Linked DNA regions of Homo sapiens: region 2 is linked to region 1. Evidence: fine-mapped expression QTL. A gene starts in region 1. The other region holds a variant in brackets. All regions are shown on one strand. Distances are between the middles of the regions.

Region 1 (4,382 bases):
AGCCGGGCGCCGTGCGAGCTTCGGGAGGGTCGCGGGGCGCAGGGGCGGGTCGGGGCCAGCGGACCAGGCCGCGCCACCCGCCCCCGCCCCCGCCCCGCCGCGCCCGGGCTCCGGCGCCCGCGGAGCTGAGACTGAGCGCGCCAGCCCTCCGGGGCCGAGGCTCTGGGACAGACACCGCGAGGGAGGCGGCCGGCGCGGGCTCTCGTCGCGGGCGCAGCGCCCCTTCCCCTCGGTAAGTGGCGAGCGGCGGGCGAGGGGCACCAACTTCGCCGCCAACTTGGGGCTGGGTTCCCGCGGCGCGCGAGCAAGGACGGCGGAGACAGAGGCGGGACACCCGGGGGGTTGGACCCACGCAGGACTCTCGGGGCTCAAGGAGGGGGCGGCTGGAGGACCCGGACCCTCAAGAACCTGGCCTTGGGTTTTGACCCGGGCGGCCGGAGAGAAGGCGAAGAAGAGGCCGAGCAGACAGGCGCGCGGCGGACGCGAGAGAAGGACGCGGGCGAAGCGTCCAAGACGTTCGTCCCCAGGGTCGCCGAGCCCTCCTCCTCCTTCGCTTGGCGCGGCAGCACCGCGGGACCAGGGGAGTCTGGGCTGCCGCGGACCCAAACTGTTGCTGCTGGAAGCCGCCGGGGCGGAGAGCGGGGAACAGGGCCGGGAGTGGGGGCCGGGGCTGGGATCCACCAGAGCGAGGGGTTGGAAAGGAGTCGAGAAGGTGAAAGGGGGCTGTGCGGCTCCCCAGCCCAGTGCCCCAGTTTCCCTAGGTCTGCTGGGCACCTGCTGCGCACTCGCCTCGGCGCCCAGACCCCTTCCCCCGCCGCGAGTCCCGCTTCTTCCCCTTCCAGCTCTGCCCCATCTCCTTTGCCCCAGCCTAGCTCTCTCCTTCCTGCGACCTGGGAGAATCGGAGTGGGCTTCCAGAGTAGTGGCATCTTGCAGATGCTGGCCCGTGCCCGGCTCCCGGGCTTCCAGAGCGCAAAGGGAAGGGTAGGCAGAGAGGGCACTGGGCGAGCAAGACCTGGCGCTGGGCCCTGGCTGCGCACCAGCCGCCTGCGCCGGTCTCTGGGGGCTTCGCCCAGGATCCCCGACGGCGGGGAGGGGAAGCCCCGAGTCTCCTGTTTCCTGCCTACGCGGGCAGGGCGGGGACACGCGGAGCAAAGGCACCCGGCAACCTGAACCCCCAGGTGCGTCCCGCGACCCTGCAAGGAGCTGCTGGGTGAGCAAGACGGGAATTCCCGCCAGGCCCTGATGCCCACCCCATTCGTCCACTCGGTTTCCCAGCCCTGGTCGTCCAAGGGGACTTCTGGCTCGGTCCCCCAGCCCTCGGATGGTGGCGTTATCTTAGTTCAGTCCCTGACCCCGGGCCACAGGAAAATCGAGGAAAGACACTTATTTGGGGAGGGTACCATTCCGCTGGCTGTATTTCAGAGCCCGTCCAGGTCTTGGCGGTGCTAGTGACTTTGAGCCTGTTTCTAAACTCCCGAAGAATAAGAGCGTGCCAGGGGCAGGTAGGCAGGTCCGGGACACCTGGGTTCGCCCAGGGCCCCCGGGCGGGCCTGGGATGGTACTGGGGCCGCCTGCCAGGCTGGCTTGGTCCCCCCACTGCGGGACTCGGGGTCACGACCCAGCTTGGGGGAGTGGGGGTGGGGGCCCCGGAGCCGCGGACGCCGGCGGGGGGCAGCGTGGGGCGGGGGGCGCCGGGTGCGTGGTGCTCAGCTTGGCCGCCAGGAGGCGTGGCGCGGGTCCCCGCCCGGAGCCGCCGCCGCCGCCGCCGCCGCCGCATCGCGAGTGTCCTTGAGCCGCGGGTGACGGTGGCTCTCGCTGCTCGCGCCCCCTCCTCCCGCGGGGGGAGCCTGATGCCACGTTCCCTATGAATTATTTATCGCCGGCCTAAAAATACCCCGAACTTCACAGCCCGAGTGTAAGAGATTGCTGCGGAGGGGAGGGGGCGGGGCGTCCCGGTGGCCAGGGGGAGTCCGGGCGGGGTCCGCGGAGACGGGGGCCGTAGCCTTGGAGGAGCAAGAACTCCGTGCCCCCAGCAGTGGGGCAAGCTAGAACGGCGGTCCTCTCCCCTGGCGCCTGGGTTCGGGTTTTGGCTGGGCAAAAGGGAGGGAGGGAAACCCGACGGCAAAGGAGGGGCGGCTCACCGGAAGGGCAGGGGGTCCGGGGGTTCTGCTGGTGGGTGGGGAGGACTCCTGCGACAGAGTTTCCTAGCCTGGGAGAGGGAGAGCCATCGGTATCTCAGATGTGAGCGGGTATGAGTGCGGGAGTGTGCATGTGTGTGCAGGTCCGTGCCAGGGGGTCTGGCTGAGCTGTGAGGACCCGGGAAGGAGAAGGCCCCCAGCCTGGGAAGGTGCTCAGACCCTTCTAGATGCTGCTGTGTCCTGCAGGACTGACCACTGCCATCCTCTCTGGGGCTCTTTGGGGATCTCTGTGTTTGTCAAACATTAGTTTAAGGGCTGTTTGTGGAAGGGGTGAGACCCTGAGTGGGTGGGTGGGCAGAGGTCTCTGAGACAATGTGTCTGCCCTCAAGGAGCCCGCAGTCCAGTGTGGGGCAGGGTGTTAATGAGTGCACACACACCTGCCGCAGGGCAGAATGGAGGGGTGGAGGGGACCACTACACAGAGCTCCCCACCCAGGAGGGGAAGCCAGGGCAGGGGGAAGAAGGGCAGGTGCCCCAGCCTGGCCGCAGTCCCTGCGCCTAGAGCCTGAGGCATCAAGGCAGGTGCCTGTGGGAGAGGGATTTCAGCTGGGCCCTGAAGGAGAGTAGACTTCTGTTGGGATGAGGACATTCCAGCCTGGGGGATGCTGGAACGAGGCCTGGAGATGAGGGCAGAATGGGGCTGTTTGGCCAGCAGACTGGCAGAGCTGTGGGTTCCAGGGATGGGAGGACGGTTGGTTGCGGTCAGGGTGCAGAGGGCTCTGTCTATGGGACTAAGCTGTCTGGACTTCATTTGTGGGCACCAGGGTGTAGCTGTCCTGTGTGAGGAGGGAGCAGTGGCTGGAGGAAGGCTTCAGCAGTGCAGTGGGGCTGGCGGGGGTGGGTAGGTGGGAGGTGGGGAGGGGGAGGCAAGGGAGGAGATTGTGGCGGGGGAAAGTGGAGTTTGTCCCTCCTACCTCTGTAGGGTGGCTGGGTTAGACGGGGTGATGAGACAGAATTCGGAAGCTCCTTGAGTCTGCCCCTTGCTATTTGGAGCCCAGGGACTTACCTAGTTTTGGCCCCTGGCTCTGGAGGTATTCTGGGATCCCTCCCCCATTTTAGGCCCCTTGATTAGAGGTACAACCTGCCTCAACTCCCCCACCCCCCGACCCCCAACCCCCAACCCAGCAGGACACCTTCCCTTTGGAGAGAGTCTCTGGTGTCCCCAGCCCATGAGGATGTCTTCCTATTGGAGAGAGTGGGAATGAGAACATTTTCAGCTATTACCAGACCCTTATTCCTTCATGTGAATGAGCTCTAGGTCCTTGGCTAAGAAAAGGTCTTGACTGGGGAGGGTGGAAGCTTGAGGGGAGTAGGGAGTTGGAAAGAGAAATACATTTAGAAAAAGGAGGTTGGAGATGCTAATGGCAGACTGCTTATTCTGCCCCTTTGCAGTTGAGGGAGAGCCTGGGCCCTTCATCCAGGGTCACACTGTCCAAAGAAATAAAATGGGAGCCACAAGTACAATTTAAAATTTTCTAGTAACCACATTAAAACAAATAGAAACAGGTGACGTTAATTTTAATAGTATATTTTCTTTGACTAAACATACCCCAAATGTTATTATTTCAACATGTAATCAAGATACAAGTGTTTACGAGATTTTTTACATTCTTTTTCCCTGTTGTCTTCAATGTGCAGTGTGGCATGAAATTTTACACTGATAGCAAACTCCGTTTGGGTGAGAGATGTTTCTGGTACCCAATAGTCGTGTATGACTGGCGGCTCCTATACTGGGCAGCACAGATCTAGAGCTCATTACTGGGAGGCAGGGGTAGTAGGAGGTTTGGGGCTCCCCAGAGGGCAAGGAACCTCTAGGACCTGGAGGTGTGGGCAGAGGTGAGCAGACAGAGGCCGTGCAAGGGGAGCGACAAGCATGTCAGTGTCCTTTGTGGTTGAGATCTGACATCCCTGATTGGTGGTGGCAGCTGAGGCATGGCATGGCATGGCTAGGATCGATCCCTTGCCAGACTCAAACATGTCTCTGGGCTGTCAGTTCTGTCACTTCTGTCACTTCTGTGTCACTGTACTAGGGAACCGTACACATGGGAAGATTTCAAGGGCGCCACCATGAGAGCAATATTCCCTTCCTTGCCAAAACTCTTGTCTTCTTGGCCTGAAATTCTACCACCTGGCACTTTAGCTTAAGGCTCTGATTGTGGTTAAACTACATCTCTCTTGGGAATG
Region 2 (4,382 bases), 55 kb after region 1:
GGGGGCTGGGCTACCACTGTTGGGGCCAGGCTAGGGGTCAACTTGATCCTCACAGGTCCTAAGAACAAGAGAGCGTGAGAGGAACAGGTGGGCTGTGTCGCAAGTGACAGAGGATGGGGGACCCTCTGAGCCATCAATCTAGCCCCTCAGCTCCCTTGGGAAAAAACACCCACACCTCCAACCACCTGATTCTGCCAGGAATTGAACTGCTCAGAACATTCATTGGTGGTGATGTGTGTGCCCATGGGCCTCGGAACCCATGAGGCCGCTTGCGTCTCCAGTAACCAGCTGGCATCTGATGGCTTTTGGTGCCCAGAGTCTAGCTGTCAATCCCCCGCCCTGCCCTGGGAACAGGAGGAGGCAGTGCCATCGCCCTCTGTTGCCCGGAGCTTGTGCGTCACTCAAGGAGAGGTGCCAGGCGATCACTTGAGATGCTCTCGGCATCTTCCCTTCCTCGGTCCATGCTCTCGGCGCAGGAAGAGCAATGGCAGTGGGAACGCTCCAGCAGGAGCTGGAGGAAGCAAGGGAGGGAAGTCAGGTGCCCAGAACACGGGTGCCCTGCAGAGAGGGCTGCACAGGCCCAGCTGGCTCCACCCCTTTTCTGCTGACGTCTGGCCTTGAAATAGACCGGGAACTGAGTAACCTTGGAGGCGGGACGGAGGGGAGATGGCATATCAAGCTGGCTGATTAATGAGCTCTCTTGAAGCGGGTTTGAGAAGTGACATCAGCAAGCCCCCAGCTTCCTCCCTAGTCGGGGGTCAGAGTGAGATGCCCTCTCCGGGGAGCTGGCACGCTGCGGGGTCTAGAGCCCCCAACCAGCAGCTTCAGAGGAAGCTACAGGGGAAGCCTAGAGCACCACCCGCTAGGGACATGGGAGGTACCCGTCAGCCGCAAGTGACAAAGCAGCCTCCAGCCAGTGGGCACGCACAGCCCCTCTTCTCTCTGGCAGTGCCTTAGGTGTGGACTCCAGGATGTGGCAGCACCTGTAGGTTGCCCAGCCCCTCTCCTTTCCCTGCAAAAGGCAGGCACGGGAAGCCCTTGACAGCTGCCTCCACCATGGTGCTGTGGGAAGCAGTTCCTGAAGGAAGACCAGAGTAGGCCTCTCCCCGGGAGACCTTTTACTACCTCGACAGATCTGCGCCAGCAGGATTTCTCAAAGGGAAAAGCACACAGAATTCTCCTCAGAACTGGTTGAAAATGCGGATTCCTGGGCCCTGTGGCCTTCGAATATACTGCATCAGGCCTGGCGCAGGACCCAAGCATCTACATTTTTATTAAGAGCCCGAAGGCACTCTTGTGCCAGTGGTCAGGCAACCAGATCTTGAGAAACACTTTCCTGATCCAGGGGAAAGGGACCAGCTGGGAAGTGTTCCCAGAGACTGTTCACCTGCCTCTCAGGTGAAGCACAGCCTCCCTGCAGTAGTGTGGGAGAAGGCGCCAGAACTGGACATTACAGACCGCAGGGGCCTCCCGGCCTCAGCCAGTGCCCAACACCCAATACCAGTCCCTGCATTCTCTTCCCATCAAGGTGTTCAGAAAATGTCTCAATCCATGGTTGAAGGAAGTTCTTGCCATTGCCAAACTACACATGCCCTGCGGTGGCTCAAGACCCTTCTAGAGTCACACTCACATGGGGTATCTGCTGCCACACCCCCAGTGCCTCCTTTTGTGCCTGAGGCTTATGAAAATGTTCCTTGGTCCACTGTCAGCGAATCCACAAGACATCCGGGCTTATGCTAATTCATCCGATATCATCATTAATGTGCACCCTAATCGTTCAGCTCTGTGTAAGGGCCATCATAGCCGAGTCCCTCGCACCTCTCTGCTGGCTGTAAACCCTCTGGGGTTCTGTGGCTCCTCTCCTCAGGGCCAGGGTGCACTGCACAGCGCACACTCAGCTATTTCTTCTCTGCACACAGGTGCTGCTTTTGAGCCAGTGTGCAGGGCCAGCACCGCTGGCTGGGACACTGGCCACACGAAGGATCACGGCTATTACTTTTGAGTGAGTGCTTTATTTAATTAAACAATTACTGCTAGGGCCCTGGGGCGCTATATAGAAAGACATCAGGCTCTGCTTATGATACACACCCTGTAACAGAGCAAGCATCATTCAGGGAATAGCACAGCCTCACAAAACTTGGCAGGGCCACCACAAATGCCACAGACTGATCTACAGGATAAAAGGAGCAGCCAGACACGGAGCAGAAGACAAACAGTTTGGCATATACAGTTTTCATTTTAGTTAGCACAAAATATTGAAG[A/G]ACATTCCATGTTACTCTCAAACTACTGGGAGGTTGCTAGATTCCACAGACTATGGAGTTTTTTGACACTTTTATTTTGTGAAATGAAGAAAAAAATAAAAAATAAAAAAGGTGGCAGGGAGAGATCTGAAATCAACAACTGGGATGTACTCTTAACAGATATAATAAAAACTATTTTTAGTTCTTTGCCCAGAAATGGGAGTTCTGGAAGCAGCGGGGTGCACAGTGTGGGATGGACTGGGCTGTTGAGCTTTGGGAGTCTGCCCGGGGCTCAGCTTCTCGAGGGGAATGACTGGAAATGCATGTGCACGCACAGGTCAGTGGCCAGGATCAGCCCAGGTGGCTTGGGAAGTGAGGCACACCGGGTTTTTATCCCTGACTGCACCACTCACAAACAAGGAGGGCTTAGGCCTCGGGCTCGGGGTCTGACTGGGATCAGGATGAGACCTGCAAAGAAACGGTCCTGAAAAAGCTCAGCGCAGAAGGTCCCCAGCAGGGATGGATACTCCCCCACTGAGCCCTGCCTGGAAGCTTCCCAACCAAATTGGCCTGTGCACAGGTGTGGGGCTCGGGTATATACTTATCAAGCTCCGCGGAGCTCTCCCAGCTCAGGGATGTGGATGGGGAGAGGGGAAGGGGAATCGCTGGTTACTGCTTTCAGGTGGGCTGCCTATGATGTCCACCCCAAGCCCTGCCTGCCTGTTTCTCCAGCAACATCAACCGGGCTTTGGGGTTCTGCACCTTTGCCTATGAATACACGGATATCTCCCTTTACACAAGAGAAGGGCTCCTGAAGTTCTTTTACAAATGCTTAATTTTCACAGAACAACATTTAAATACACTAGGGAAACTGAGTACTTAAGAGAAATCTGAAGCAAATCCTTCTGTAAAGTAAGGAATCACTTTGTAACAAGTAACTACCCTCCCAATTTATTTCATACCTTTGGATTTTCATATAATGGGGTTCCTAGGAGTTAAGAATGCTGGGTGTGTGTGGGTCAAGGTCATGGCAACAGATCATTTCCCATCTCCATTCACTTCCTGGGGGAATTGGTGAATGGGGGTGGGGTGAGGGATGAGCAACCAGGTAAGTTACACTGCCGTTTTCCCCACGTGCCCGGGAGTAAACCTGGCTTGCTGCGGGTAGGAAGTCTTTGCAAGGCTATACTCATTATTTTACAGACAATGGAGATGGGGTAAAGAAATATGGTTTAGGCTAAGCACCCCAAATCCAAAATTCCAACACCTGAAATGCTCCAAAATCTGAAACTTTTTGAGCACTGACACGATCCTCAAAGGAAATGCTCACTGGAATATTTTGGATTTTTGAATTTAAGATGCTCTACTGTGAGTATAATGCAGATATTCTAAAAATCTGAAGAAAATCTGAAATCAGAAACGCTTCTGGTCCCAAATATTTTGGGGAAGGGATACCCAACCTGCACATTCTACCAGGGCCAGAGACACCCAACTGTCATGCTGTGAAGGGGGCTATGTCGGTCACCAGCTTAGAAGCAAGAACATAAGACCCTGTCACCCCTCAGGACCTTGACAGAGGCCCATGAGCAGCTTCCGAGCTGGGTAAGGGAGTGGTAGGGAGAAGAAGCCACTGCCTGCTGCTTTGTGACACTGAGTCCCCCAGTCTGGCACCTGTACTGAGACCATAGAGGCGGTGGCACGGGGGACTAGGCATCATCCTCTCAACTGGCGCATAGGTATTGGCCAAGGTGGGGACAGGTCATAGGTCGTGGGGCATGATGGATGGTGGGCATAATGCCAGTCAACCGAACCCACGTCCCTGAGAGTGACATTAAAAACAAAAACAGCAACCCTCTCCCTGAGCAGGAGGAGAAAGCATGGGCACTGGGGATGAGGGTGGAGGAGGCAGTCACAGGGTGACTCAGGGAGGCGTCACCCAGGTGTCCTCAGCAAGGTGAAGGGACAGGCTGGAGCAACTCCGGGAAGAAAGGAGGGACAGGGGCCGTGCTCAGACAGGAGCAGCAGTGGCGGAGGAATGGGTGGGGTGGTGGGGGTTCACGCTGTCCCTGGCTAGGAGCTAGAGAGACAAGCTGCAGTGTGGGAGTGAGTGACAGGCAACCTGAATTTCATTTAGGGAGGGCT

Which allele goes with the higher level. Positions count from the first base shown, and alleles are read on the strand shown. Sizes are in standard deviations (SD) of each study's normalised expression.
For the expression in cerebellar hemisphere of the gene that starts at base 1,775 in region 1, allele G in region 2 goes with a higher level than allele A (small effect, 0.33 SD a copy in GTEx).

Evidence for each region. PIP is the estimated chance that this variant, and not a neighbour inherited with it, causes the effect.
Region 2: its variant is the best candidate, but not a certain one, in a credible set for the expression of GRIN2C in cerebellar hemisphere (GTEx, PIP 0.50).

Annotation. Positions count from the first base shown.
Region 1 is chr17:74,857,278-74,861,659 of GRCh38, reverse strand. It overlaps GRIN2C (glutamate ionotropic receptor NMDA type subunit 2C), which reads left to right and starts at 1,775. Exons shown (of 13, transcript NM_000835.6): 1 at 1,775-1,916. RefSeq lists an enhancer at 250-948.
Region 2 is chr17:74,801,885-74,806,266 of GRCh38, reverse strand. The region is part of intron 8 of SLC38A12 (solute carrier family 38 member 12); the gene reads right to left. Among named protein-coding and RNA genes, the nearest start is that of SLC38A12, 28 kb to the right of the region's middle. The variant A/G (reference allele first, on the strand shown) is at 2,262.